Regions from separate parts of the Homo sapiens genome. Here regions 1, 2, 4, 5, 6 and 7 are each reported to be linked to region 3. Evidence: microRNA targets listed by miRTarBase, many of them from high-throughput screens and not tested one by one. Region 3 holds a microRNA gene; each other region holds the end of a gene's coding sequence.

Region 1 (4,068 bases), not on the chromosome of region 3:
TGTTAAACCTGGATTAAATTCTGCTTTCAAGCTATTAATAATGATTCTTATAAAATGATCTCTTTATTGCTTTCTTTCTGTTTCTCATGAATTAAGGTTTCCCTAGGACTTCTGCATGCCCATGCCACACATATCCTGTGGCCCCCAGAGCGCTGGCAGAAATTGGAATCTGTTCTTCCTCCAGAGCGCTTACCAGTACAGAGAGAAGAGGAATGACTGCATGAATCTACCTGAGTTGCTGGCATTGGGAGGCCAGTTACTGGAAAGGAATGGAAAAAAGAAGCCTCCAAAAGGGAAAAACTTCTGACAATATGATGCTGTGCGAGAAATATTTACAGCACATTAAAACGATCTGTATTATTAAATAAATAATTTTCAAATGTTAAACAGTATTAAATGGCACCTGATTTTGTGTTAAATTTTAGTTCCCTGTTGTTTAATGCCCCCAAAATATGCAGACCTTTGGGAATATAAAAATATTGCACCCACATGTCTTAATGGGGCTGAATTTCAGATTATTTGTTACATATACTTATTATATTGATTGTTGGGTTTTGATTTTGGTGCTTGCTGCTGAAATAAATTGAAAATTAATATTCAATAAAAATGATGTATTTGTCACTTGCTGTTAAGGTAGAACAAGAAGGAACACATATTATACACATAATGATGGGAATTACATTGTGATTTGTACTATCTACAAAGGAGTAACTGCCAGTTAGGAAGAACAGTAAACAGTGATGTTAAAATAAAACAATGATTTGCTAAGGTCCTGTTTTGAGTATTTAATTCTCATTGAGTACATCCATTAATGAGGAATTTCTTATCTCTTCTGAAAATAAGGAATCAAAGTAATGGAGAACCCATTCTGTCGACACTTGCATACAGTCAAGCCTTTCTTATTGGCCCTTTGTAATCCAACATTTCTGAGTGATCTCATGCCTATTCACAATGATGGGTAAACCCCTTTATCCGCATTTAGTCATACTATGTGTTTAAAAGTTCTGAGTGAAATAGAAGAAAAAACAGTCCAGATCAGCCACGTTTGATTTTCTTCCCCTAATTATTTCTCAGTATTCACGTCTGTAATACTGAAATCACCAATTGCAAAGTTACAGTAGAATCATAGAGTCTGTAATTTGTATGGATAATGGAATAAATTCCCTGCATCTAAGTCCATGTTTATGAAAGCTTCTTTTTCTCCCATTGGTTAGAGGTTTGTGTAAATTATTATTAGCATAATCATATTCAACAAATATTAATGAGCACTTACATACTAATGTTGGACAGAATTTTTTTTAAAACAGATCTGCTTAAAATTTTTCTGTGGCTCTTCATTGCCCTTCTCAATTCTTCAGTTCCATTTTCTCTTTTCCCCAACTCGAACTTCATACCCTGGCTTTTAACTGCAGTTTACCAAATACTGCTATTTCAAAGCTTGTAATTTTTTTCTTTCTTGGCAAAGTGCATCCCTTGGAATTATGTGTAAAATGTTTAGTACATAAGGGTATTGACTCTTTACTTGCTGGAACACAGGAGGGTCTATGGGTCATATAGGAGGGGATTGGGAGTACTGAGGGGAGGTAGAGTAAAGAACAAATAGACAGGTGCTGGTAGTGACTGCTATTTACCACTGGTATAGAAGAGTTCAATATTTTAACAGTTTACCCCATTGGCTATCAGCCTTGCTACCTTATTGACTACCCGTGCCATTGTTACTCGAACTATTCATTCAAGATTGTATATCTTTGGAGGGAAGGTAAATGCTCTTTCTATTCAATTTTCTATTCACTAGCCATCCAGCACATCACCAGCAGAGTTAATGCCTAATGCTTGTTGAACAGCTCAGCTGACTAGTTACTTCCTCAGGAATACATCCCCAGGCAAAGTCACTGCTCTACCTGGTATATACCTTCATTAATGTATCACTCTGCATGTTAATGATTCGTGTACATACTTTCTCCCCTACTAGACTGTGAACTAGTAGTCTAATCTAGAGCAGGGTTTATCTTGCTCAACTTGGTCATACGATTGCTCATAATTGACAATAAAATCCTGTCCAATCAATGTATGAATCCTAGGCACTGTGTTAAGGACAGGAAAATCAAAGTAGATAAAACAAAGGTTCTCATAGTCGACTGGTGGGGGCAGGAGGAACTGTAAAGAGGCAAAGAGTTAACATACAATTCCGCAGTAGGTATAGAGCATGGAATAGGTGCAATGGGAGCAGAAAGGGCTGTAAATCTGATTGTGCCTGGGGAAATAGGGATGGGAGAAACCACCACAGGAGGGGTGCCACGGGCTGAGCCTTCTAGGATGAATGGAGTTCCCCTCCTGTGAATTATAAATTTAATCTGTATAAACGATTTCAGTTACTTAAATAGTTTCCTCTCAAACATTACTGCTAGTTTACTGTTCAGGGTGTAGTGTGTGTATTATGTTTTATACATTTAATTTGTAAAATGTGAAATAATGATTGTACCTCAGGAATATTGAGATTTGTAATTAATTTTTTTTCACTTTTTACAACAGTCATTTCAAACAATTTTACCAAGTAACTTATAAAAATGTGTTATATATCGGATGTTCCAAGATGGCCAAATAAGAACAGTTGCAGTCTACAGCTCCCAGCATGAGCAATGCAGAAGATGGGTGATTTCTGCATTTCCAACTGAGGTACTGGGTTTCTCTCACTGGGACTTGTCGGACAGTGGGTGCAGCCAACAGAGCAGGGCGGGCATCGCCTCACCCAGGAAGTGCAAGGAGTCAGGGAATTCCCTTTCCTAGCCAAGGGAAGCCATGACAGATGATACCTGGAAAATCGGGACACTCCCACCCTAATACTACGCTTTTCCAATGGTCTTAGCAAATGGCACACCAGGAGATTATATCCTGCGCCTGGCTCACAGGGTCCCATGCCCACAGAGCCTCGCTCACTGCTAGCATGGCAGTCTGAGATCGAACTGCAAGGTGGCAGCAAGGCTGGGGGAGGGGCGTCCACAATTGCTGAGGCTTGAGTAGGCAAACAAAGCAGCTGGGAAGCTCGAACTGGGTGGAGCCCACTGCAGCTCAAGGAGGCCTGCCTGCCTCTGTAGACTCCACATCTGGGGGCAGGGCATAGCTGAACAACAGGCAGCAAAAACTTCTGCTGGCTTAAACATCCCTATCTGACAGCTTTGAAGAGAGTAGTGGTTCTCCAAGCACAGAGGTTGAGATCTGAGAACGGACAGACTGCCTCCTCAAATGGGTCCCTGACCTCCGAGGAGCCTAACTGGGAGACACCTCCCAGTAGGGGCCGACTGACACCTCAAACAGCTGGGAGCCCCTCTGAGATGAAGCTTCCAGAGGAAGGATCAGGCAGCAACATTTGCCGTTCTGCAATATTTGCTGTTCTATAGCCTCCACTGGCGATACCCAGGCAAACAGGGTCTGGAGTGGACTTCCAGTGAACTCCAACAGACCTGTAGCTCACGGTCCTGACTGTTAGAAGGAAAACTAATAAACAGAAAGGAAATCCACACCAAAACCCCATCTGCACATCACCATCATCAAAGACCAAAGGTAGATAAAACCAAAAAGATGGGGAGAAACCAGAGCAGAAAAGCTGAAAATTCTAAAAATCAGAGCAGCTCTTCTCCTCCAAAGGAACACAGCTCCTCGCCAGCAATGGAACAAAGCTGGATGGAGAATGACTTTGATGAGTTGAGAGAAGAAAGCTTCAGACGATTGGTAATAACAAACTTCTCCAAGCTAAAGGAGGATGTTCAAACCCATCGCAAAGAAGCTAAAAACCTTGAAAAAAGATTAGACAGATGGCTAACTAGAATAAACAGTGTAGAGAAGACCTTAAATGACCGGATGGAGCTGAAAACCATGGCACGAGAAATAACTTAATGCATGCACAAGCTTCAGTAGCCAATTTGATCAAGTGGAAAAAAGGGTATCAGTGATTGAAGATCAAATGAATGAAATGAAGTGAGAAGAGAAGTTTAGAGAAAAAAGAGAAGAAATGAACAAAGCCTCCAAGAAATATGGGACTATGTGAAAAGACCAAATCTACGTTTGATT
Region 2 (4,061 bases), not on the chromosome of region 3:
CCTACAGCAGTGTGGTGAGGCTGGGGGATGGAAGAGATGGGTGGAGTTCTGGGACATCTTGGCTGATGGGAGTAGGAGAGATGGCGCCAGGGGTGGGAGAGTGGGATGGGGCTAGGGCCACCCTTGACCTCATCCTCACTCATTACAGGAGAAGAGGGACAGTCTGCCCATCGACGGCTGGAGGAGTCCCTGGACGCCCTGCCCCGCATCTTTGGGCCTGGCAGCATGGCCAGCACAGCATTCTAAACTATTCACCCATGGGTTCCTGGTGCCCCTTTCCCCCCACTTTCAGGGCTCACCAGGCACTGGCAGGGAGGGTAAGGGCTGGCTCCAGATACCCCTCCCCCACAGATTCCTAGCAATGAAAATCTAATATATTCTTCTGTTGCCCCTGGGGTTGGAGAGTCAGTGCCTGCAGTCAAGTGCCTCCCAGCCTCGGCTCAGCACATCCCTTGCCACAAATCAGTGTCTGGGGCTTGGCCACCCTGCCGCTGCCCAGCCACATCCCTTGGTTTTGTATTTTATTTACAGAGTTTTACAGAAAATAAAAAAGCAAAATGTCTTTCCTACATGGCCTGGTACACTCCTGACCCTCTGCTCCAACACCCTCTGGCTGTGGCCCTGCCTGACACTGGTGTGTTCACACTGCAGCTGTGACAGTGCCATGTGCACTTGCCCTGGAAATTCAGGTGGAAGAAAGCCCAGAGGCTGGAACTGGGCTTGGAGAAGAGAGCAGGGGAAAAGGGTGGTTCAGCCTGCAGGTGGGGCCTACCCTGGGCCTGGGAACTACGGCCCAAGGTGGAGCTAAACTGGAGTTGGCCCAGAAAACACCAAAGGGTGCCAATCCCAGGCTGTGGCCTGGGAGCAAAGGGGAAGGGAAAGGAAAAACAGGAAGGGAAAGGAGGCACGGGGTGGCTGGAGCTTCTGCCCACCAGGGGGCAGCAGATCCGCGTCAGCAGATGCCAGGTTTGGGTCTTCTGCAGCCTGGGCAGCTTTCTGCAGAGGGGGCTGAAGGAGCTCCTTGAAGCTGGATGGCAGGGGAGAGGAGCTCCTTGCGGAGGGGAAGAGCTGGGACCTGGGAGGCAGGAGACCTGGATGGCTAACCTGTGACCCAAGACAGCAAGTCCCTTCCCTCTCCAGCTGTCTCCCCCTCTATAATAACAAACGTGCCTGAACTCTGTGATCCCCAACAGCCGGCCAACCTGTGCTGCTTCAGGAAGCAGAGATCCCAGGAGAGGGCTTGCCTTTGCCCCGCCTCGCCTTGCCCCAGAGCTGCCTGGCCAGTGAATGTGTTAACCCCAGAAGGCTGAGTCCTGCGTGAGGAACTGGAGTGTGGGGTGGGACTTCAGGATGGCAGGCCTGTTCTAAGGAGGGGCTGAGGGAGGCCCACACCCGTGGCTAGAGAAACAGGCTCTCCACCCTTCCCCTCTCCCTCAGCACTTCCAGTATCCAGGGGCAAGGAGGTGGTGCATACGCAGCACTTCCCTGACTCATTGAGGCCACTCTGATGTCCCAGTACCTGTGGCAGCAGCTTGGCCTGTGCAGGACGTGTCACGTTGGGGAGCCTGCCCTCAGGAAGAGCCAGTGAAGTGCCAACAGTCCTCTGGAGGGTGACCCAGATCCCCAGGGAGCCCTGCCCCCCAGTGTTTTAGAGCTAGGTATGAAGAGGTTTGGCTGGGGCTTTAACCACCTGCTGGGGAAGCCAAGCTGAGCAGAAAAAACGGCAACAGGAAGAAGCACAGGAAGCACCTGTGTGGATGCAAGTGGCTCATTCCAGACGCTGGGGCGAGGGTGGGCAGGGGCAGGCAGGCAGCCCTCTGCACACTGGCGCGGCTCTTTGCTCTCTGGGTAACGAAGGGTGGCACGGGATGGTGCAGCTCAGTATTTGGGGTGGTGAGCTGGAGCAGCATGGGGCAGAGGAGGCAAACAAATGATGGAGACCAGGCCAGCACCCAAGGCTGGCCACAGCTGGGGCCTGCCCCAGGGGTCCCTGGAGGAGGCCGGCAATCCCAGAACCGCCCCTAGCAGCCCTCAGTCCTGAGGCCCCCACAAGAGGCCCATTGGTAGAGCAGGGCTATCCACCTGCATCAAAAGCATAGCCTGTCATGGTGGGGGAAGAGGAAGTGAACACTGGTTGACCAGGTCCTGGGAAAGTGCAGATGGGGGTGACTGAGCCTGCATGAGCTCACAGCTCAGTACACAGGAGAGAGCAGGGCTTGGGCAAGAAATGGAGGATGGAAAAATGTCATCATCCCAGCCAAGGGGTCCACTGGCGTTGTCACTAAGAATCCCTGCTCTCCAATGCTGGGAAGGGACAGACCCTAGACTCTGTGCTCTGCAGAGTCCTGAGGCCAGAGCCTAGTATTCAGCTCTAGCCAGGGGTGGGTGTGAGGATCGGAAGGGGACAGGAGCTGGAATGAGGGCACTGTGAGCACAGCCAGGTGAAGCACATGATGCCTATCTGGCTCAGAGCAGCATGAATCAACCCCAGGACAGCCAGTCAGCCTCTCTCCATCAGTGGCTTGAAGGCAGGCTGGATGGCCTCCTACACCCAGGCCCATGCCCAGGTTCCTGAGATGGTGGAGGGGCAGAGAGAACCCTTGTCCTCCCACCTCTGTATCTCTCCTGACCCCCTCTGCCTCACAGGGGCCTCCCACAGGGCAAACCTGCCCATAGCATTCTCCCACCCCCTACCCTGCTGTCATGTGGGTCAGGGAGGCAGGTGTTCCTGCTGTTTGGGACTGAGGACAGTTGGGAGCCCCTTGCCTCAGGTGATGGGCAGTTGACGATACCATCATGAGTCAAAGGTATCAGGGCAGGGAAAGCGTCTGCCCAGCCTCTGAGGGGACAGATGGAAGTGGGCCTCCAAGGCCTGTGACACACTGAGAAGTGCCCTATCAGTTAAGTCCATTGAGGCCACAGTCGCCTTGGCCATCATCTCTGAGACTCTGCCCAGAGGAAACTGCTCCACGCACACTGCAAAGCAGGGGCCAGGCTGAAGTAGTCCATGATACAGTTTATTGTGCTGGCAATCGATGGAGTGTTCCCTCTACTCTCCTCCTTTCCTCTTGCCCTCTCCCAACCTTACCTTTCCTCCTGTCTCCCACTCTTCTTCCTCATGTATTCCAAGCTGCAGAGGACCAAAAAAAGAAGAAAGAAAAAAGGCACGTTTGTGAAGGCAAAGAAAAAGATGGGTTGGCATGTGGGAAGAGGATTGCTGCTTTGTCTCGCCCACAGAGCGGGGGTGCCTTCCTTGTATGTTTCTGTGCCTGGTATGTGGGTACAATTTGCTGAACCCCAGACATATGACATGACCCTCCTTTCCCTCCATACCCCCCTCCCCACCCCAGACAATCCTGGAGTGTCCCTTTCAGGCCATCCATCTCCCATGGACAGAAGGCTCTTGGCTTGGCTGCAAGGCCTGGCTTTTCTGGGCCTGGGTGATACAGGAGGGTAAGCTTGGGAAGGACTCCAGTGCCTCATATAAACTGCTAATGAAGCACAATCTATCATTTAGAAAATAGGACTGACATTGGCCTGCGAGAAAGGGGTCTCTTGTTTCAGAAGGTTGACGGCAATTGGGTGATGGCCACTACTCTGAGTTTAATGTCAAGGGTCAAGTCTCACTTGTCTCCAGATACACCCAGGGCATATGGACACTCAGTGAATGCTGACTGAGAGCAGCTGAATTGCTATACGCAACACCTAGGTTTCTAACTGTCTCCTCTTAATTTCCTTACAACCTTCTCCTCCTCCTCAGGCATGTCTTAACATGGTGAAACCCCATGTTGTCTCTACTTAAAAAATAAAAATCGCCCCACAGGGTTCCATTCTAGGCCCTTTCCTCTCTCTCAAAACATACCCCTAGATGACCTCCCCATTCTGCTGGCTTCCATCCACATGCTGAGGCTGCATGCCAATCATTCACATGGTTCTTACCTTGCTTCCAGACCCCCACATCCAGCTGCTCACTGGACACTTCCTTTTGAACATCTGGGGCATTTCAAACTCAACATGCTCAAAATCAGACTCAACATCTTCTCAAAACTTGTTTCTCCTCC
Region 3 (4,068 bases):
AGGTTTTGCTAGTTTTTTCCCTGAATTGTTAGAACACTAACATTAAAGGTCCTCTTCTTATAAATAAAGTCAGTAAAGGCAAACCATGCATGGGCATAGAATCTGTAAGTGCTCCAACAAACACCTTAGCACTTAGTATGTGCAAGGTCCTATGTTAAGGCTGTTAAGTGTAAATACCATCATATTCTGCCTTTTCAGCTTTTCTTGCATTGTTCAGAAAAAGCTATCCTTTCTACTTTAATACTTGATAACCACTGAATCCTTCTGCCCGTAAGTCAATGAAGTAGTAAATTAGGTAAGACAGACTCCTTGAATCTATTGATAGTTTACAGAGATTGAAAATGGAGGCTCTCAAACTACTTTATTTAGTTGCTATAAGAATTAAATACGTTAAAAACTAAGTACTTAGAAAACAAATTGGGAATAAATAATACCCAATAAATAAGCATCAAATAAATACCATTGTTATTAGTATGAAGTGCTTACTGAATTTTGAGAGATAAATTAGTTTCTGTACTTAATCGTATGGTTGGCTAGAAAGATGAATGAAGGTAGCCTCTAATATATTCTTGTACAAAATAGAGTTATGCCAATGTAATGCATATTAATTAAAATTAATGCAATTATTAATAATAAAAATGGCAAGACAAACATTCTTATGCTTTAATGCTTTCATTCCCTCCATCCCAACCAGAATTTTGTTGGGGGATGAACTTACAACTCTGCAGTGTACTGGGGAATGTGCTCCGGGATTTTGTTGAGCTTTTGATTAGAGCAATCTACTGTGGTTCCTTCACAGCGACACTTTTCAGGGCAAGCCAGATCCGCAAAGCAGTCTCCACTTAATTTTGATCGATAATCTTCTGTACCTATTGAGAATTCAAACCAAAAAAAAGATACTGAGTCTAAAGGTTAGAAAATTTATTAGTTTGTAGGAAGAAAAAAGTAAGATAACTATAGATTATGTAGCAGGGAGACAACTTGGGGTATTTTGGTCAATGGATGTCAGGAGAAAGGTTAAAAGAAAGGCTTGGAATTTTCTGGAAAAAAGAGTGACCAGATTCACATGACAGGAAAACATTAATAAAGTTGAGCTTTTCACAGCTGTACTTTCTGCTGATCCAATTCTGAGTCATTCTAGCCTACTTCACAGCTAGTCACACAATGGATATTAATTATTAAAAAGTTTATTTTTTTTCTCGGAGTCAAGAATTGAAAATATATCCAGTAATAAACATGATCCTATATCTCATTGTAAATTAGGGCTTTCAAGGCAAATAGATATACTCAGGCTTTTAAATTTTCTATGGACTTTTTACTATTCTCTCCCTCTCACATAATCTCGGAGATGCCTAAAAAGCCCTCTTTTTTCATTTTGATTTTGTAGAAAGAGACAGGAAAATCCTGATTTAAGCCTCAGCAGCTTGTCATGCTGTAGAAAGCTGCGTGACGTTCCATGGTGCTTGACGGAACCATGTTTTACTCATACCTCGCAACCACATGGTTAGATCAAGCACAACAGAAAATCTCGCTACATTATCACTACACCAACCACTAGGCCAAAGGTAAGACCAAGAGGAAAATGGAGGGAAGGAGGAGAAAAGCTACAGACGTTCTGGAAACGTAATACTGTTTACATGACATGCATTCTTCCCGCAGAATGTTTATGACCACAGTAAGAGTATTACTACCGATGATTTCCTGGAAACACAAAGAAGGGGCTATATGGAAAAGGTGCCTCCACCATTCCTCAGAACTGCAGAATGGAAACAACAGCTTTCGGGAACAACATCCAGGAAGAAGTTGAAGGTGAGCTACAAGGACAACAGAGAAGCTCAAAAGATCTGTGGTTTCTTCTTGAAAAAAAGGTGCCAAAGACCAAGACTAGAAGAAGGTACATCAGGATTGAAAAGGGAGGGTATTATGTTTCAGATCAGACACTTTTACTTACAGCCAAAATGGTGAATTCCTGCAAAAGTAAAGATCACCAAGAAGGAAAGAAAGAGTAATCCCAATTAAGATTAATATACATATTTATAAAACTAAGCTCTCTTCCTTCTTTCTTTATTATGGGAATTATTGAAAAAATAGCATGATGTGATGGGAATTGTCATGCTTTGTAAAATTTTATAAATAATATTTTGAAGCACGGTGGTCTCACAAGAAAACCAATGTAATAAAAGATGCATAGTGCAAATTAAGTTCTTGATTCCTTTAAAAGATGAACTCTCAAGGCCGGGTGTGGTGGCTCACGCCTGTAATACTAGCACTTCGGGAGGCCAAGGCGGGCGGATCACAAGGTCAGGAAGTCAAGACCATTTCACCTGACGGGTGAAAACCCATCTCCAGTAAAAATACAAAAAATTAGCTGGGCATGGTTGCGGGCGCCTGTAGTCCCAGCTACTCGGTGAGGCTGAGGCAGGAGAATGGCATGAACTCGGGAGGCGGAACTTGCAGTGAGCCGAGATCATGCCACTGCACTCCAGCCTGGGAGACAGCGAGACTCCATCTCCAAAAAAAAAAAGATGAACTCTCTGCAAGACAGATTTTCTTTTATCACTGTAATATGTAGAGTGCCATATAAAATGGTAGTAGCGAGGTACACACGTAAAAGTGAATGAAAAACTAATCATGGAGATCCTCAAGGACAATCATTACAACATTTGGATTAATCCTTATGTTGTGATGTACACTTTTTAATGAACTTTTCAACTTATAAATAATGTGTCTTAGTGGAAATGGAATCAGAATCTCATAAGAAGTTTGCGATGGTAAATATAATCGTTTCATTACATTTGGCAGTTAATGCCATGATATTTACTGAGGATCTGGTGTCTTATGATTTATGCTTCACTCCAAAATGAAATAAGAGTGCACAAAGTCTAAGTGACAGGTACACTGGATATCTTGCAATTCAAATAATCTGCATTCAACGGAACAGTAATAATGCTTATTTTATGGTGGCTTGTTAGGTGGACTCAAATTTTAATTAAAATTTTTGGAAAAAAGGGGAGGAAGCCCAAATGATCCTTTTGAGTCCTGGCTTCTACAATTATCATGTTTAAAGAATGTAAATTAAATTATCATAAATTGAAACTTAAGACATGATATTTGATATAAAAGATAATTTCCAAATCCTATTTTGGCTGCTGTCAGTAACAGGGAAAAACTATATCAGAATATATGAAAACAACCTGACTTTTGTTCTTTATTTAGTGAATTGGAAATATTAAACTTACCAATTATTAATTAAGTATATTTAAATGAAATAGTTTGAATAATTTGATACCAATTACATTACTGCCATAATTTTAGGATTTAAATCATATTAATGTTTTATTCTATAGGTAGTCTGGTGTTTAGAATATGGCTTTTTCTGGTTAAATAATAGCTATCAGATTACTTTCCACTTAATTGGGTAAAGTAATTAATATTAAACATTGTCAATGAAGGCCAATCAACTGTTCTTTTCAACATGTTACTTGTTATGCAGCCAGTATAATAATATACAATGCTATTGATCATTCAAGCTCAAAATAAGTCATATCACCAAATCTACTAAATCCATAAAATTATACAAATTGTAATTCAATAATGGCAAGCTAACAAATATCTCCTTAAAATAGAGACTAAACCCAGAGTTCTTCTTAAGAAAATATGGAAAGTTAGACTAACTCTGTACACTAACGCTGTAGAAATATCTTTTAATCTATAGCTCTTAAAATTTTTTATAGTCTAGAATATACCCAAGAGACGGTGAATGTGGCCAATCGATACTTAACATAATGGTTTAAAACAAACAAGTCAAGAGGCATTTTACACAATTGGCAGGCAAGGAAAAATAAGTAAAGAAACGTATTTTAAAGAGCTAGTTCTAGAATCATCAGTCTTGATAGTGTTACGATTGAAGTGGTAAAACATTGCGATTACTTTTCTTAGAAACATTTTATCCATCTGCCTAAATTATTCAAGGCATTTTGTGCCCATGAACTTCTGATGCTTTCACATCACACATAAATATTCTTTTTTATGGAGTTATATTGTAATTCTGGATATAGAAGAATGTAA
Region 4 (4,068 bases), not on the chromosome of region 3:
ATGCAGTGAGCTATGATCTGCACCCCAGCCTGGGCAACAGAGCAAGATCCCATCTCAAAAATAAGAAGAAGAAAATTTGATTAACAGTATTCAATGGCTGGAATGATTAAATTGTAATCAGAACAGCAGAGCTACGTAAGCTTAAAAAGAAGATGGAAAAGGCATTTTTGTCATGATGATTGATCTCTAACCTTATATATTGCAAAGTAAATATGGTTTTCTTTTTAAAATTTTGTTTGTAGCACTGGACAAGACACTGTTTCCAATCCTACTTATATGAACCAGAACTCTAACCTACAGTCAGCTACTGGTACAACTGCTTACACACAGCAAATGGGGATGTCTGTGGATATGTCATCTTATCAGAACACTACTTCCAATTTGCCTCAACTGGCAGGCTTTCCGGTGACAGTTCCAGCTCATCCAGTTGCACAGCAGCACACAAATTACCATCAGCAGCCTCTCCTTTAGAAACAAATCAAGCATTTTCTTGAAAGCCTTCATAAGTGTATTATTCAGTCCTTGTGATACCAACCTGAAAATATTAAAACTTTTTTCCCTCTCAACTCAAAAGGACCATGAATAAATAAAGCACAAAAACCTCTCTTATTCTACAAGGCCATAAAAGGTTTTTTTTTTTTTTTTTTTTCAGTCCAGTTTGTTTGAAGTCAATCTTTTCATCAGAGGCAGCTTAAAGATGCTTTCAGTTAGTTTTGTCTTACTTTCAGATTTCTCTACATAAATCTAGATACTCATTAAGTAGCCTTATGACAAACAGTATGAGATACTTATGACAAACTCGCTCTGTCACCCAGGCTGGAGTGCAGTAGCATGATCGACAGAGTGAGTTTGTCAAAAGTATCTCATACTTATAAACAGTATGAGATAGGAGGATTAAAATATTATTTTAAAGAAACCACTGTTTCCCCCTAAAATGTCATAAGAGCACTGAAGAACTTGAAATATTTTTTTCAGAGTTTCTCACACACTTTAAAAGTCTAACTTTTTTGTGTGTAAGCATTTAGCTTGCCAGCATATTTCTTTTTGGCTCCTTAAATTGCGGTTGTGTTTGCAGTATTGTCACTTTTGCTCTCACTGTTATGTTGAATAATAATTAGCATATAATTGTCTACAGAAGCAAGAGCAATCTGGAAGGAACAAAAATGTTTTCTGTGATTAACAGTGAAGACCTTGTAAATGCAGATGTGTGATAAAGCATTTAGTCAGTCCCCCAAACAGTCATGCCAACTGTGAAGGAATGTCCCACAAAACATTTCCATTCCCTGAGGAAAAACATTTTCTTTCCTACATGTATCTCTGGTATTTAGAATTGTCACTAATAACCTTTTCAAGTGATTTTGGCTATTCTCTAATGAAGATATGGTCCATTTGTTTTTCTTCCTGCAATGTGGTGTGCAGAGATGCTGCATATCCTTTTTATGGGATTGCGTGTGAATTTGAACCATGAGACATTCCTAATAATTTGTTGTGAGATATACCAAGCATGGATGATAAGTGTGTTTTTAGTGGTGTGTTGTTTTTTTAAAGAGGTGATTCAAGTACCGTTGCTAAGCTGTCAACATACCAAGCTGTTGAAAAAATTGACCATTTCTTTCAGAAGTAATTCTCAGCCTGTGGAATAATAGCAGGTGAAGACTTCATAGAAGGCGACAGATTGATAGGGAGGCTATTGAAGCAGTTTTTCTGAAGCCTGCATTTTGAGTTAGTTTATAGTGCTAATAGATTCTATATAACTGTGAGAGTTTGGTAGTAAACCAGTAGGGATTGTTTTCTCTCCTAAAAATTTGCACACTACTTCATTGTCTACCAACTTTTTACATATTGGAAAATAGAAATTGCAAATACATACATGTATGGAAACATATTCAGATTGGGAAAAACAATGGACATTAGTTTTTAAAAAGTTACGTGGAAGCAAGATTTCTATATTTGTTTTTTTAAAGGAAGCAGTCATTCTTTCTACTAAATCCATTTCAAGCTAGTTCTCTGAAAATTTTGCCATTTATCTACAGAAATTTGATTATAAATATGTTCCTTTTTCAAAGAAACTTTATTCTAGAACAAAATAGTCTATATGGTACTTGATCTACATTTAAGTGGAAAAATTAGCAGTATTTGAAAGCTCAGTTTATGTCATTGTCTTAACTTCAGATACAAATAACTGAACAGAAAGTTTTAACCTTTAATATCTCATGTTCTGTTTTTTATTCAGTATTTTCCTTTATGTTAATTCAATTATATACTTCTGAATGGCACCTTACTTTTTGGAAACAAATCTTCTGTTATTTACAAAATAATAATTTTTAAAAAACATTTAAAAAAAATCCAAAGCTGCTCTCGATAATAGTCAACATTTGCATATATATGGAATTTCTTACTTTTTTTCTCCCAAACTCTATTTAATAAACTTATTTTAATGTTTGTGTATTTCATGTATAATTGTGATCTCAATTATAAAAGTTTAATTCAGCATGTCTTTGAGCCAATATAATTACTGCACACCCACTAAATTGGGATCAGCCATTATAAATAATGTAGTTTTAGAATAATAAAACATGACACATATATATATATATAAATATATAGTATATATTGGCACATCGGTGAAAGTTTATATGTGCAGAAGTTTTTTTCTTTCTCAAGTTAAAAATTATTTTTTGCCATATGTAATTTTGTGTTGCAGGCTGTCGAGAGATAAAAATGATTTTAAATCTGTGTACTGATGATTCTTTCGGTGTTAAGAAACACAGGGTTGTGTACTTCCCTTTTTATGGGCTTATGGATTCTATTTATATTAAGACCTGTTTATAATTGTTTTCTGCCAAAGGGAATTGTCTAACTTCAGATTTCTACATTGGGTTCATACTTACTGTTTTATATCAGAAATAAAAAAATAGCTTCTGCTTTTTCATATGAAATCTTGGTACATCAGAAAGAATTCCTGAAAATTTATAATAGAATGAATTTTATTAATGCAGAAAAATACCCCAGGGTGTTAAAATATATGAAGTGTGGGATATATTCTTATAGTTTGTAAAATGTAGTCAACCAATACTGTCTTCTAATTTGGTAATTTATTTATAAAATTACTTAAACATTAGGTAATTATATTTGTTAGGATTTGAAATTATTTGTAGTTAAATTGTCATGCTGTTTGAAATAATTGATACTTGTCTACGTAATACATTTTACTGTATGTTTTGAAGATGGTTATAATTTCACTTTCAAAATTTAAAAAATCAATTTTAAATGTTTTAAAAACATATAGCTTAGGGATTTTTTTTAAAAAGGTTTTCTTAGTAAAAACATAAATTTAAAAGCCCCTGAGTTCTAGGAGAGGGCTTATTGAATTGCTATAAGAAAGCTGGAGTTACTTTGATAAGTAATAAATTATAAATAGCACTGATCTATAATGCTTTATTTCTATCGGAAGGTACTTTTTCTTCTTTCATCATCAGTTTTAGCCAGTTAGTAAATGGGAATACTCAGTTTTAGGGATTTGATTTTTGTTTGGTTTAATTTTCTTTCAAAAATTAAAAGTATATTTCTAAAAGTTTTCCCCAGAGGCCAGATACAGTGGCTCATGCCTATAATCCCAGCACTTTGGGAGCCTGAGATAGGAGTATTGCTTGAGGCTAGGAGTTTGAGACCAACCTGGCAACATGGCAAGACCCTATCTCTACAAAAATTTTAAAACTTAGCCAGGTGTGGTAGTGCACCTGTAGTCCCAGCTAGTCAGTAGGCTGAGGTGGGAGTATTGCTTGAGGCTGCAGTGAGGTGTGATCACGCCACTGCACTCCGGCCTGACAGAATGAGATCCTGTCTCAAAAAGAAAATTCCCCAGAAGAAGAATTCTAATTTTATCAAGCTGAATTAAAGTTTGAGAGTCTTTTTTTTAAAATCTTACTGTGTCAAAAGAGGCATTATGTTGCTTGTGTGATATAGTGAATAGTGTCCCTCCAAATTTCATGTACACCTGGAATGTCACAATGTGACTTAACAGTAGCCACCCCTCACCCCCGCCCTTATCTGTGGTGGATACATTTG
Region 5 (4,068 bases), not on the chromosome of region 3:
ACAAGAGATCACACACAGGCGAGAGACTCTTTCAATGTAATCTCTGTGGGAAGCGCTTCATGCAGCTTATTAGCCTCCAATTTCACCAGCGAACCCACACTGGCGAGAGGCCCTACACGTGTGACGTCTGCCAGAAGCAGTTCACCCAGAAGTCCTACTTGAAGTGTCACAAGAGAAGCCACACAGGGGAGAAGCCCTTCGAATGTAAAGACTGCAAGAAAGTTTTCACCTACAGGGGGAGCCTGAAGGAGCACCAGCGCATCCACTCCGGAGAGAAACCCTACAAATGTTCCAAGTGTCCAAGAGCCTTCAGTCGGCTGAAATTGTTAAGACGCCACCAGAAAACACATCCAGAAGCTACTTCTCAGTGATTGCATAATCCGGTCTATGCCTTCTGCACCAAGAAGAAGTGAATGATATTTTTCATCAATGTTATCAGATGACATTTGACACATGCAAGGGCGTCTGACACACAGAGGGAGTGCCCTAGATATGAATTGCCAGGATGTTTGAGTAAATATGTGTCCTCCCCACTGAGCTTTGTTTTCTGTTTCATTATGTCCATTGTTTTCTTATAGGTTTATTTTGGTTTGTGTTGCTGTTCTTCCAATAAACGATCATCTTATTAGTTTTCAATATTGTATAACGGAAAACTGAGTTTCCTGATTGACATGGGGTTACCCACTGTTTTGCTGTAAAGTACAGTTGTCCAAGGAGGGTGGCCATATAAAATACATAATGCCTGATGAAATTTGAGTTTCAGATAAACAATTTTCTTTAGTATCAGCATGTTCTAAATTATTTATTTATCTGAAACTCAGCTTTTATTGGGTATCCTGTAGAGTTTTCGTTTTCTTTTTTCTTTCTTTCTTTTTTTTTTTTTTTGAGATGGCGTCTCCCTCTGTCACGCAGGCTGAGGTTCAGTGGCATAATCACCGCTCACTGCAGCCGCGACCTTCCAGGCTCAAGCAATCCTCCCATCTAAGCCTCCCGAGCAGCCGAGACTACAGGAGCACGCCACCAACTTGGCTAATTTTTGTGGTTTTTGTAGAGATGGAATTTTGATATGTTGCCCAGGCTGGTCTTGAACTCCGAAGTACAAGTGATCCAACTGCCTCGGCCTCCTTAAGTGCTGGCATTACAGGCATGAGCCGCTGTGCCCTGTATTGTTTTTATTAGACTTTATTATAATTATGATATTCAAATTTTTGAAATAATTTTTTGTAGTGATGGGATTTCTTGTTGCCCAGGCTGGTGTGGGGTGAGCCACCACGCCTGGCTCTAGACTTTCTTTTTCAGAGCTGTTTAGGTTCACAGGGAAATTCAGTGGACAGCACAGAGTTCCCCTAGACTCCCTCCTCACACAACACAGCCTCTCCCTGCCCAGCATCCCCAGCAGAGTGGTGCACCTGTTCCATCAGTGAGGCTGCCTGGACATATCACCACCACCCAGAGTCCATAGTGTTCATTAGGGCTCGCTCTGGGTGTTGTACGTGCTGTGGGTTTGGACAAAGGCCTCATGAGTACACACCACTGGAGTATCCTGGGGGGTATTTTCACTGCCCCCGGAATCCTCTCTGCTCTGCATATTTATCTCCCTGCCCCAGATGGTGTATTTTGTGGCCTAAATTTGGCAACCTCTAAATTCCCGATTTGACTCTTGAACTACAGAGGCATTGGGAGTCTCTGGTGACTAGTTGGTCTTAGTGATACTACCATCCCCTGAAGGCGTGGTTAATCCTCAGGTGGGTGGGCCCCAGACTCAGCTTCTGATTGAGCAGACCGGGCATGGGGCCTGAGAGTGTGCATTAAAATATATAATTCATTTTAGAATAGCTTTCTAAAGTCCATGGAGCTCCCTAATGCCCCACATGGCTTCCCCCATTGCCAACATGGTTCATTAGGATGGCACCTTTGAACTGACTGGAGCGATGAACTGACTGGATATATTGCCGTGATCTAAGGCCCATACCTTATTGAGGCCTCCTTAGTGTTTACACAATGCCCTCCTCTTCCTTCCTCCCCATCCAAGACACCACATTGCCTTGAGTTGTCACGTCTCCCTAGGATCCTCTTGGTGACAATTTCTCAGATTTTACTTGTTTGGGATTACCTGAGAATGTACATTTTAGGTGGTGCTCATGCTGCTGGTCTTGGGAGGACATTTTATGGATGGCTGATTGAGCTGACGGGCAGAGTCCTGCAATCTGCAGAGGTCTGGAAAGGTCCCTTCCCAAATAGGCTGGATTCATTTATTAAAGACTACTTTTGTAAGACTTTGGTTCTTGTCATCTTAATTTAAAGGAATTTAATCAAGAGACCCACAGCAGAGAGATGCATCATAGAATAATTGATTACAGAGGAAATACAATATCTTGAAAGTTAAGGGCAGAATAGACAGGACATCCTGGGAGCAAGGATTCAGGGCCAGCTGCTCCCAAGGATGAGACAGCAAAGACCTGCTTGAGGGAGACTCCCCTTTATGGGAGTCTTGGATGATTACACCTAGGGGGGTGGGAAGAGGTGTTACTACTAAGCATATTCTGGGTGCTCTTCTGGGCACACAGGTGCAGTAGCTGTGCACATGTCTCATTAGCGTCTTAACTGCCCGCCCAGGTGTGTGTTTTTTACTATCATAACAAGAAATGTGTCGGTTTGTGGATGGGTAAGATCAACGTGCACATTCTCTCTACAGTGGAAATACTACAGTGGAAATACCCTACTGGAGATGGCCTTGCTTGAATGAACTCAATTCCAATGTGAACGCTGAGGCTTACTGTGTTGACTGTACAGTCACCACGCGTGCAGCATCCTGAGGACGTGGTCATTTCCTTGACTGCCTATCCTGCCTCACCCAGGTCCGTTTCGGAGTAGCATTCTTTGAGGCAGGGACCTGGAATCCACCATAAAATGTACATAGACTCCCCTTTCATTCAAGAAGTGGAGGTAGGGGTGGGTGGTGGTTCTCCCTTTTGGTGATTGGGTCCAACCTTCTTCACAGACGTAGAAAATGTGTTGATAATACCACCTGCCCGTTTAATTTCAATCATGGTGCTCTATGATCCATTAATGACATCCAATGTTTCTTTAGAGCTTCATTTTCTAATTTGGCTACATGTTGGAGTCACTTGAGGAGTTTTTAATATTTTTTTTAAAAGCAATGCCTGGGGTCCAGCCCTAAGGTAATGATGTGATTGGCTGAGGATGTGGCCCCTGTGTTGAGAGTTTATAAAACTCCGCAGGTGATCTAACGTGTGGCTGAGTCTGGCAGGTCGATTTTCTTTTTTTTTTTTTTCTTTTTTTTTGAGACAGAGTCTTGCTCTGTTGCCCAGGCTGGAGTGCAGTGGCGCGATCTCGGCTCACTGCAAGCTCCGCCTCCCGGGTTCATGCCATTCTCCTGCCTCAACCTCCCGAGTAGCTGGGACTACAGGCGCCCGCCACCACGCCCAGCTAATTTTTTGTATTTTTAGTAGAGACGGGGTTTCACCATGTTAGCCAGGATGGTCTCGATCTCCTGACCTCGTGATCCACCCGCCTCAGCCTCCCAAAGTGCTGGGATTACAGGCATGAGTTACTGTGTGTGTTCACGGTGCCTGGCCCGGGTTCCTTTTCTGCCAGCTTGGAAGGGCAACCCCATGACTGAATGTGATTCTTAGGATGGCTCCGCATTTACATCCTTGTTACAGTGCATCCACCTGAAAGGCTGCACACCTGAACTGGGACTGTTAACACCCATGCCAATACAGTGTGGGGTGCCAAGAAGTGTCTGCTGATATTTGTGGGGAAAAAAATCTATTTTGTTCACCTACTGTATCAAAGGAAAATTTGGGGGAGAACAGTGGTATTGTTTTAAATCAGGGGTGAAAACAAGTTACAGATCTGAAAAAAAAAAAAAGACTGGAGGGCGATTTCTTAGAAAAGCAGAGGGATTTGGGGTCTCGGCCTTCGGGCTCCATCCAGCGCCATCGGCCTGGCGCTGCCGCCAACGCGGGCATGGATGGGCCCCTTCTTCGCAGACAGCATTGGACCGGGGCCCGGGCTCTAGGGGCGGCCTCCGGCCCAGGCTGG
Region 6 (4,068 bases), not on the chromosome of region 3:
AAGGCTTAAACAGTACCACCCTGTTGTGGAAGCCACTCAAAACACAGAAAGCAATTCTAACATGGACTGTGGTTTAACTGGAAAGCGAGAATTAGAAGTTGACTCCCAATGTGTGAGGATAAAAACTGAATCTGAAGAAGCATGCACAGAGATTCAGCTGTTAACAACTGCTTCATCATCTTTCCCACCTGCATCAGAACTTAATCTACAGCAAGATCAGAAGACTCAGCCTATTCCAGTTTTAAAAGTGGAAAGTAGACTGGACTCTGACCAGCAACACAATCTGCAAGAACATTCAACCACTTCTGTGTGATATGTACATATTCAAACACATTTTTTAACTTTTTTAAATTTTGATGTGAAGTTATAGTTTTATAACTGGCTTAAGTTAAGTTTTATTGGAGAAATCTTGCCTATAATTCTATAAAGAGAAATGACATTCCACAAATGTCAAGCATATCTTTTTTACACAGATTATGCAAAGTTAAGAGTTGTATCTTATCCCGTTAGTACAGTATGTAATAGTGGGTCTGCTGCTACTTTCTGTTTTAAGGTGTGAGGTAACAATTCAATCTCTTCTTCAAATCAAAATGAGAATTCTCTGGAATAACAGATTCTTGTTTGGTAAATTATTCACTTCCCTTAATTTTATCTTGCCTTGTCTCTTGCCATATTTGCTGTTTTTATGGATAAATAAGATTTATGGTTTAGTACTTGTGTCTTTATGGCACAGGTTCAATTTCTACAGTGAAAATGGCATAGGTTGCAGGAAAGAATTTCTGCATCTGGTACATGGGCAAGTAAGTTATTTAGTTCTAACCACAAATAACAAGTAGTTTCCAAGGAAATTTCAGTGGCTCTCTGGTTTCTTAACAAAAGAGAAAGCACAGCACTTTCTGATCCAAACTGTCTTTTTTTTGTATCTGTTATTTAAAGCCCAGTGGATATTTCAATTAAAAAAAAAATCTAAAGATGAATAGTCCTTGGTCATTCATTATCCATGGCTCATTAATCTCTTCTAGAATATATGCTAACTGTTGAAGATATTTTGGGTAAAAGAGATAATGTTGACATGATACTCTATTGTTCTGCTTCCTGGCATCCTCACATTTTGTGGGGATAATTTTGCTTCCTAAACTGATCACAACTATTAAACTTAGAGAATAATAATAGTCTTTCTGATGAGGCTGCCATATTTTGAGCATCAATCTTATGATAAACTATTCTTGTCACTTGGCATCAACCTCTTCATGATAAATATCTACTACTGAGACACTTCAATTCACAGTTTTAACTGGTGAATACCTGGGTTTATTTACTATTACTCTGTGTTGCTATTTTCTAAGAAAGAATACAGCACTAGACTTCATCCTAGAGTTTCAGGTAGGCTAATGCTTAGTGCCTGAGTATTTAAATTTTCTTTTCAAACAGGCACAGTTCACATTGCTAGTATGGTCCTAACTTTCTGTTATTTTAGAATGTTAACATGATTCACATTATACTTTCTCTTAGTTAATAATACAGTAGGCCTTTTGTTTATTAATGGAAGAGTACTCCCCACACCTAAGACCAGATTCTTATATCTCCCTGGTTACAGTGCAATTTGGAGATTTTTTTTTTTTCCTGGATGGTAAGATTTGAAATATTTACATTAACATAGGCAAAAAAAAAAAAAAATACAAGATGCTGCTTTATTATGTCTGTCACCATGAAAACTTAGCTGCATCTTTTGAAATATCAAATATGAATTTTCTCTAAAATATTCTGAAATAGGTTAAATCTTATATAAATATTACTTTGTGCAATATTGTTGTGTAGTTAAATGCATATTAGCAAAGTATAGAGGTCACTGTGTAAACCGATAGAAAAGTAACCATCAGCAAATACTGCAGTGATTAGTTAGAATCTGTATTATTCCTTATATATATGTATATGTATGTATTCTCTGTTACAAAGGATGAAGACAAATAGGGATACATTTCAATGTAAACCATTTATGAATTGGAAGTGATGTTGGCTTTAGTTATCTTTGTAAATAAGGTAATTAGAATGGTATGAAAGGTAATGTGATTATTGCAGGGGTGTTTTTAAATCTTGGGTATAAATTCTAGGGTAAATTCCAGTTTATCCAGACTAGTTTTTAACGGGACCTGCCTTTGAGGGTGTTTTTTGTTATTTTGTTGGGGAGGGGTTTAATCACAAAGTGTGTGGGTTTGGGTTATTTCTTGTTTTTATTTTTCTGTCCAGAAGAGCTTTACCAGGCTGTGCAAAGTAAAATTCTTCTCAGGCAACATTTGCTTTTAAAAATAATCATGAAGAGAAGGCTGTTAAAGCAAAAATTTTTTTTTTTTAATTTTTTCTTGTCTTCCAAGATCCGATTTCCCCATCTCCCACTTGCCATCCAGCAGATGCCATCTGTCATCCAAGCTGGTCATTGCTAATAAACAAGGAGACTGTCTCCTGACAGCCAGCACTGTGTATTATCACTCAGGAACCAGCGGATCTGCAAAGACCTACAATCAAAAGCAAATCCCCATTTTCCTTTTATAAAACATTCTACCCTCACCTCCAATATAAACACATTAAAAGAGTACAATAAAAATGTTTAAAATCATGTACTAATAAATTCATTGTATGTTAGAATTGCAATAGAATGAAGAGAAACATTTAGCTAGTAACGTGATCTGAAAACTGAATGTCCTATGTGAGTATTAGATTTTAATAGCATGCTTTAAAGACTGATGAGTATAAAAGCAGAAGTTTTGCGTTTTTTACTGCTTTCAAAGCTGTATCCTAGTTTAGTGATACAAATGATTGCAATTTTTCTAAATCATTAAATTATTTGGTTTGGTGGAGTGAGGCATGGAGCAATCTGGCGTCTTCTGATTTGTTAAAGTAGTGATGGCAGTGAAGTTGTAACTGAAATTTAAGCTGATCTTCCTTTTTGGTATATTATCCGTTGTGCCAGCTCTTGAGATTACTTGCACAATGTGGCTATAAGTTTTAATATTTTGTGGAGCAGAGGGATGGTTTTTAAATGTGCTTATGGAAAGGACCCAATAAATGAATATTCCTAACTTAGTAAAGTAGAATAATTTCATGGTATTCATTAAAAAGCATAAAAGTCTTCCTCTTGCCCCAGAAGTAATTCTCTATACCAAGATATGCTAGGAGTAGGATGATGATTCAAAGTGGTAACCCAAATTCATAAAGCAATAATAATAAAAACCTATATAGTATGTTCTCTCCTCCAAAGTTTTAACTCTAAAAATTGGTTCCTAGGTTTAATTGTACCTTTAATTTGCTTATTCAGTACTTAGAATTTGTTTAACTGGTACTTTTATTATTTTTTAGTGAAAGACTTTTGAAAAGTGCCCTTTCCCCTTAAGAGACAGTTGGAATACCAGTTGACTAATATTACAAGCTCTTGTAGGGGGAAAAAGGAGCTTATTAAAGTTGTTTACTAAACTTTAGGAAAAGATGTCTTGCATCAGTCTTACTAGGCATAAAAGTCACACTTAATGACTGGAAAAAACTTGCTTATTGCCTTTCCCTATATAAATATTAATTGTCTAGAATGAAAGCTAATATAGGAACAAGACTCCCAAATCCATGAAAACGCTTAGTGAATATATTCTTAATCATTAATAAATTAGCCCATTATATTTTCATCTGTATTTGCCATAAAAAATTTATTTGCATTTATGCCTTTAGGATAATTTTGTATCTTTCTAATCTGTTTTATCATTGCTACAGGTTTTTAAAAAAGAACCTTTCACTAGCTAGCACATGCCAGAGGTTCACATCTGTTTTGTTTTTCAAACAGGTCGTAGCTGTATTTATTGGCCATGCAAGTAGAGGAAATGCACAGTACAAATGTTTTTCTTTAGCACGTAAGGGACCTATCCTTGTCTTGAAAGTTTGTTGCTTTAAAAGCAAGTATCTCTCCATAAATATTATGGCCTTCCATTTTCTTCATACATTTTTTAGGATCCACTTGTGCATGTAGTTGAGACCACTGTCTCTTAAAATATAGCACTTTTCAATTCTCTCTAAAGAAATACTTAT
Region 7 (4,059 bases), not on the chromosome of region 3:
GGCATTAGTTCCAGGCCCTTTCCCAGCTCTAGGACTTACCCTTCTTGCTGCGCTGCAGAATTTCATTTGCCTCCTTCAGTGTGATGCCTGCAGGGGCTACCACCAAGTCTTCCCTCTTTGTCATTATCTACGTGGGAGGTGAGATGTGAAGAAGGGCCAGTCATCGACTATGACCAGTTAACTCTTTTCTTTCCTTCCCAAGTAGCTGAGCTCAGAGGCACGCGCCACCACACCCAACTAATTTTTTGTATTTTTAGTAGAGACGGGGTTTCACCATGTTGGCCAGGCTGGTCTCAAACTCCTAACCTCATGATTTGCCTGCCTCAGTCTCCCAAAGTACTGAGATTACAGGGGTGAAGTTCTATGGACCACCACGTTCATACATTCACACCCAAAACACCCTTCCTCAAGGGATCCCAATAATTCTTAGCAGTATGGTATTGAGTGAGGGATGAGTAGAAAGGACAACATGGCACAGGGAGCACCCTCTTACACTATGGAATAAGGAGGACAACACAGGAACAATGGCAAGAAAATCAGGGCAGACCTCAAGCACTGCCCCTACCTTAGGGGTTTAAAAGAACAAAGCATGAATACTAGCAAGCATTTGGGCAGTTTGAAAGCCTCTGGTGGGGAAAGGATGCAGGAACCCAATAAAGGAGTCAGAAACTTGGTTTGACACTCCTTTCCCAGAGAGAAGAGGCTATCAGAGATGTCTTAGACAACAGAAGCCCCTTGTCTTCAACCTGGGCTGCTAGAGCTTGGATCTACTCTGCCAGTGGCACCCACCTCTTCCAAGAAACAGTCATGTTCCTCCTCTTTGAGAAAATCAATGTCCCTGGAGGAGATGATGCCCACCAAGCGGCTCCCCATCCGGCCTGTGTCTGTGATTGGGATACCGCAGAAACCATGCCGGGCCTTGGCCTCAAAAACATCCCGCACGCGATCCTTGGGGCTGAGGACCACAGGGTCTGTGATGAATCCCTGTTCATATTTCTGGAAAGGGATGGTGAGAAAGGGCATCGCATCTTTGAACTACTTTCATCAGGCTCTTGATCTGAAGCATGGGGTCTCTGCTTATCGATCCCTTTGGCAGTGCCACAAGACCAAATCACACCAACACATCTTAGAGACATGGGTAGGCTGGAGGCACTGTACACCTGGTCTATTGCTGCTGCTTTAAGAAACAGAATCTCAGGGTCTTCTCAGTAACTGAACCCCATGGTGGGAAGAAAGAATACTAAATTAGAATAAACCCCTACTCCCACCCCACCCCACCTCAGTGCAATTCCCAGGAGCGCTTGCTAATGATCGTTGCCCTTCTGACCTTCACTTTCCGAACTTCATTGGCCTGGAATTCAGGTGTACAGTTGTGGTGGATGAAGCCAATACCGCCTGTAAGCTACAGGATAAAAAGAGACTACTACTAAGTGACAAGAAGCAGGACTGAATGCCTTTGGGGAAAGGCGATGGAGTCCTTGCTCCTTCCCCCACACCCCATGGGGCTCACCGCCATTGCTATGGCCATCCCAGCCTCTGTGACTGTGTCCATGGGAGAGGAAACCAGTGGGGTCTTAAGAGTGATTTTCTTGGTCAGAGCAGAAGTCAGGTCCTGAGGAGACAAACGTCAACCAGTGTGGGAAAGCATCCCTTACACCTCAAGGTGTTACTGAGTCCCCCACAAAAAGGCACTTTTGTATGACCTGCATGCTAACAAGCAACATGATCCTATAAAATCCACCCCCAAGCCCAATCTGGTGAGTTAGCCCAGAGACCAGGTGATAGTAGCACCTTAGCTCACCTTGATGTTCAGGACCCAATTCCTGATCATACTCACCACCTGGTCTGCAGTGAAGTCGATGTACCCAGGGAGAATGAGAAAGTCACTGCGAGGGAAGGGAGTGAATTGGGAGTAAAGCTCTCAGCTTAGGGCAGCATGAGACTCCATCCCCATGTACCAATCAACCCGTAACGCATGTGAGCAGAGAGTGGCACTGACAGAGTCTGTGTGTCACAGGCACAGCACAAGGTGGAAATGGGTACAGGGGACCTTTTCTGCCACCGAGCTGTCATCAGTGCTCCTGGCACCCTGACAATTCCATGTGTCTGGAGCATGGAATCTCCGGCCTGAGATTCCAAGCACTACTGAGATGCTTCTCCGTACCCCAAGCACCGCTCCAGATGTCTCAAAGTGAGCCCCGGAGGTGGGTGGCCAATTCCCGAAACCTGTCCCCCACGCCCACGCCCAAGGCGGCTCTCGGAAGCCCCCATCTGGCCTTTTCCCCAGGGTGCCGCCCCTCTCTTCGCCCAGGTGAGCCCCATAGGCCCGCACTTGTAGGTGAGGCCGTCTCCGCAGTTGAAGAGCTGCTGTGCTGTGAGTCCGTCGTCTGGCACGTAGGACGTGCCCCCACTAATCAGGTAGTCGGCCATGGCCAACACAGGACACCGCCGCGTGTCTCCGAGGACCGCGCCGCAGAGACCTCTGCCGTCTGGGCCGCGCCAATATAAACCAGCCGATTTCGTCACTGCGCTGCGCGCGACGCTGACGTCAGGGCGTAGTGCGCGCGGGCGGAACCTACCCGCCTCGCTGCGGCGGGGGCGGAGCTGGCGCTGAAGAAACAGCGCATGCGTATAGCACATAGTGGCCTTGTCACTGAGGAGCTGCCACTTCACGTCCCACCCCACACTCCCCGCAGGACCTCGGCCAGTTCAATTAACAGGCAAGGGTTTACTTCTACTGTCCCGCCGGGCTCCTCCCCAAAATAAAGAGACGTTGTTCACTAACATGTTGAAAAGACGTGCTTGTCATTCTTAATAAACAACTAGAGTAAGAATACATAAGAGAAACAGAGTGGTATCTTTATATGATACACAAGTGTATGTTACAAGAATTCCATCAGGCACAGGAGCCTCAGGTTTTAAGGCCTCAATGTTAGGCCAACAAAAAAAAAAAAGGCATGGTAAAGTTTTTACTTTTACATCTAAAATGTCACTTGTCATAAAGGAGGGTGTAATAGAAATTGTCTTTAATAAATCATAATTGAAGTTCCCCTCATTTTTCTTCCATTAAGATGCTAAGTTTATGTCTGATCATGAAGAAAGAAAAGAACATCGTTCCCCTGTGGTCAGCAAAGTCTGTCAGCCCAGTGGAAGTCGGCTGGGGAGATTCCCTCCAGGGTCCATCCATCATTAATTCCATCTCTCTTGAAGATGGAAAGGGGCCACATTTCTTTTCACAGTCCAAGCCCTTTCCCCAGGCCCCAGACAAAAAAGAGTCAGCCAGCAACTTTCTAGGACATATGACACTCAAGGAAACCCAGAGCCACCATCGGCTGAGGAGTCTGCCGCAGCAGGTTTATGAAGATGCAAAGGGGGCAAAGTTTTCTTTTATATTTTAAACAGAAGCAGCCTGAAAGGCTTCGTAACTACACCAATAAAAAAAAGAAAAAAAAAAATGGAGGCCTCTTCTTTAGTGTGAAAGTCTGTCTGGTTTTTCCTGGCTGGTTTCTCTTGTGCCATGGCCAAGGCATCTCAGTGCATAGTGCTTGCATTGGCCACTGCGATGGCCTCCTGAATTTCTCTTATCACCAGGATCCGCGTCAGCATTTGTCCCATCTGCTCTCTGCTGATAGGCTGGACTGAGTACCAGATTGGGCTGTTGGGGGCCACCACTGGCTCAGGTGTCAGGTAAAAGGTGTCATTCCGGCCTTTCACACTCTGGGGGCTGAAGAATATGCGGATAAAAGTTGGGTACCACCAATATAACTTCAACCCTCCCACCCTGAACTTCCCAGACAGATGCTGTCTGCAAACAGTAAGGCCCCAAGTTATTGTGGCACAGCTACTGAATTCCATGCAGCCACCACACACTACATCCTGGTCCTCCTTTGGGACTACTGCAAATCCCCCAAATGTTGGGTTACTTCCCCTCTGCCCCTCCTTCCCACAAACCAGCTGTGATCCATCACTGACTGCACCAGCCTAGGGCTCTCATGGACTCATGTGAGTCTATCCTTATCCTACTTGAAGCCAGCTTCACTGCTCAAAGCGTCTATCTCC

What was found. The annotated mature microRNA hsa-miR-218-5p reads UUGUGCUUGAUCUAACCAUGU and lies in region 3 at 1,499-1,519, opposite strand. An mRNA with a match to its seed (bases 2 to 7 or 8) in the 3' UTR can be bound and repressed. Matches are read on the target gene's strand: a 7mer-m8 pairs with bases 2 to 8, a 7mer-A1 pairs with bases 2 to 7 and ends in A, and an 8mer does both.
Region 1: the mRNA of IMMP2L is a reported target of hsa-miR-218-5p. The part of its 3' UTR that is shown has no 7-base or 8-base seed match.
Region 2: the mRNA of RIPOR1 is a reported target of hsa-miR-218-5p. The part of its 3' UTR that is shown has no 7-base or 8-base seed match.
Region 4: the mRNA of STAM2 is a reported target of hsa-miR-218-5p. Seed matches in the 3' UTR shown: 8mer at 590-597.
Region 5: miRTarBase lists ZSCAN5A as a target of hsa-miR-218-5p. The part of its 3' UTR that is shown has no 7-base or 8-base seed match.
Region 6: the mRNA of RSBN1 is a reported target of hsa-miR-218-5p. Seed matches in the 3' UTR shown: 7mer-m8 at 883-889.
Region 7: the mRNA of QRICH1 is a reported target of hsa-miR-218-5p. The part of its 3' UTR that is shown has no 7-base or 8-base seed match.

What each region holds. Positions count from the first base shown.
Region 1 is chr7:110,659,750-110,663,817 of GRCh38, reverse strand. IMMP2L (inner mitochondrial membrane peptidase subunit 2) reads left to right here. Exons shown (of 6, transcript NM_032549.4): 6 at 97-1,174. The coding sequence ends at 216. Among named protein-coding and RNA genes, the nearest start is that of LRRN3, 430 kb to the left of the region's middle.
Region 2 is chr16:67,546,218-67,550,278 of GRCh38, forward strand. RIPOR1 (RHO family interacting cell polarization regulator 1) reads left to right here. Exons shown (of 22, transcript NM_024519.4): 21 at 1-14; 22 at 149-569. The coding sequence ends at 246. LOC124903703 (a long non-coding RNA gene) reads right to left here. Exons shown (of 2, transcript XR_007065094.1): 2 at 3,002-3,130. Among named protein-coding and RNA genes, the nearest start is that of CTCF-DT, 14 kb to the right of the region's middle. RefSeq lists an enhancer at 780-839 and a silencer at 789-1,083.
Region 3 is chr4:20,525,750-20,529,817 of GRCh38, reverse strand. It overlaps MIR218-1 (microRNA 218-1), which reads right to left and starts at 1,543; the gene lies at 1,434-1,543. SLIT2 (slit guidance ligand 2) reads right to left here. Exons shown (of 37, transcript NM_004787.4): 16 at 719-869.
Region 4 is chr2:152,116,977-152,121,044 of GRCh38, reverse strand. It overlaps STAM2 (signal transducing adaptor molecule 2), which reads left to right. Exons shown (of 14, transcript NM_005843.6): 14 at 243-4,068. The coding sequence ends at 471. Among named protein-coding and RNA genes, the nearest start is that of CACNB4, 20 kb to the right of the region's middle.
Region 5 is chr19:56,217,878-56,221,945 of GRCh38, reverse strand. It overlaps ZSCAN5A (zinc finger and SCAN domain containing 5A), which reads left to right. Exons shown (of 6, transcript NM_001322064.3): 6 at 1-643. The coding sequence ends at 371. Among named protein-coding and RNA genes, the nearest start is that of ZSCAN5C, 18 kb to the right of the region's middle.
Region 6 is chr1:113,762,225-113,766,292 of GRCh38, reverse strand. It overlaps RSBN1 (round spermatid basic protein 1), which reads left to right. Exons shown (of 7, transcript NM_018364.5): 7 at 1-4,068. The coding sequence ends at 313. Among named protein-coding and RNA genes, the nearest start is that of PHTF1, 4.8 kb to the right of the region's middle.
Region 7 is chr3:49,026,921-49,030,979 of GRCh38, forward strand. QRICH1 (glutamine rich 1) reads right to left here. Exons shown (of 10, transcript NM_198880.3): 10 at 2,787-3,724. The coding sequence ends at 3,532. IMPDH2 (inosine monophosphate dehydrogenase 2) reads right to left here and starts at 2,478. Exons shown (of 14, transcript NM_000884.3): 1 at 2,333-2,478; 2 at 1,838-1,886; 3 at 1,511-1,612; 4 at 1,328-1,402; 5 at 790-996; 6 at 40-127. The coding sequence starts at 2,430. RefSeq lists enhancers at 1,611-2,213, 2,214-2,815, 2,269-2,478.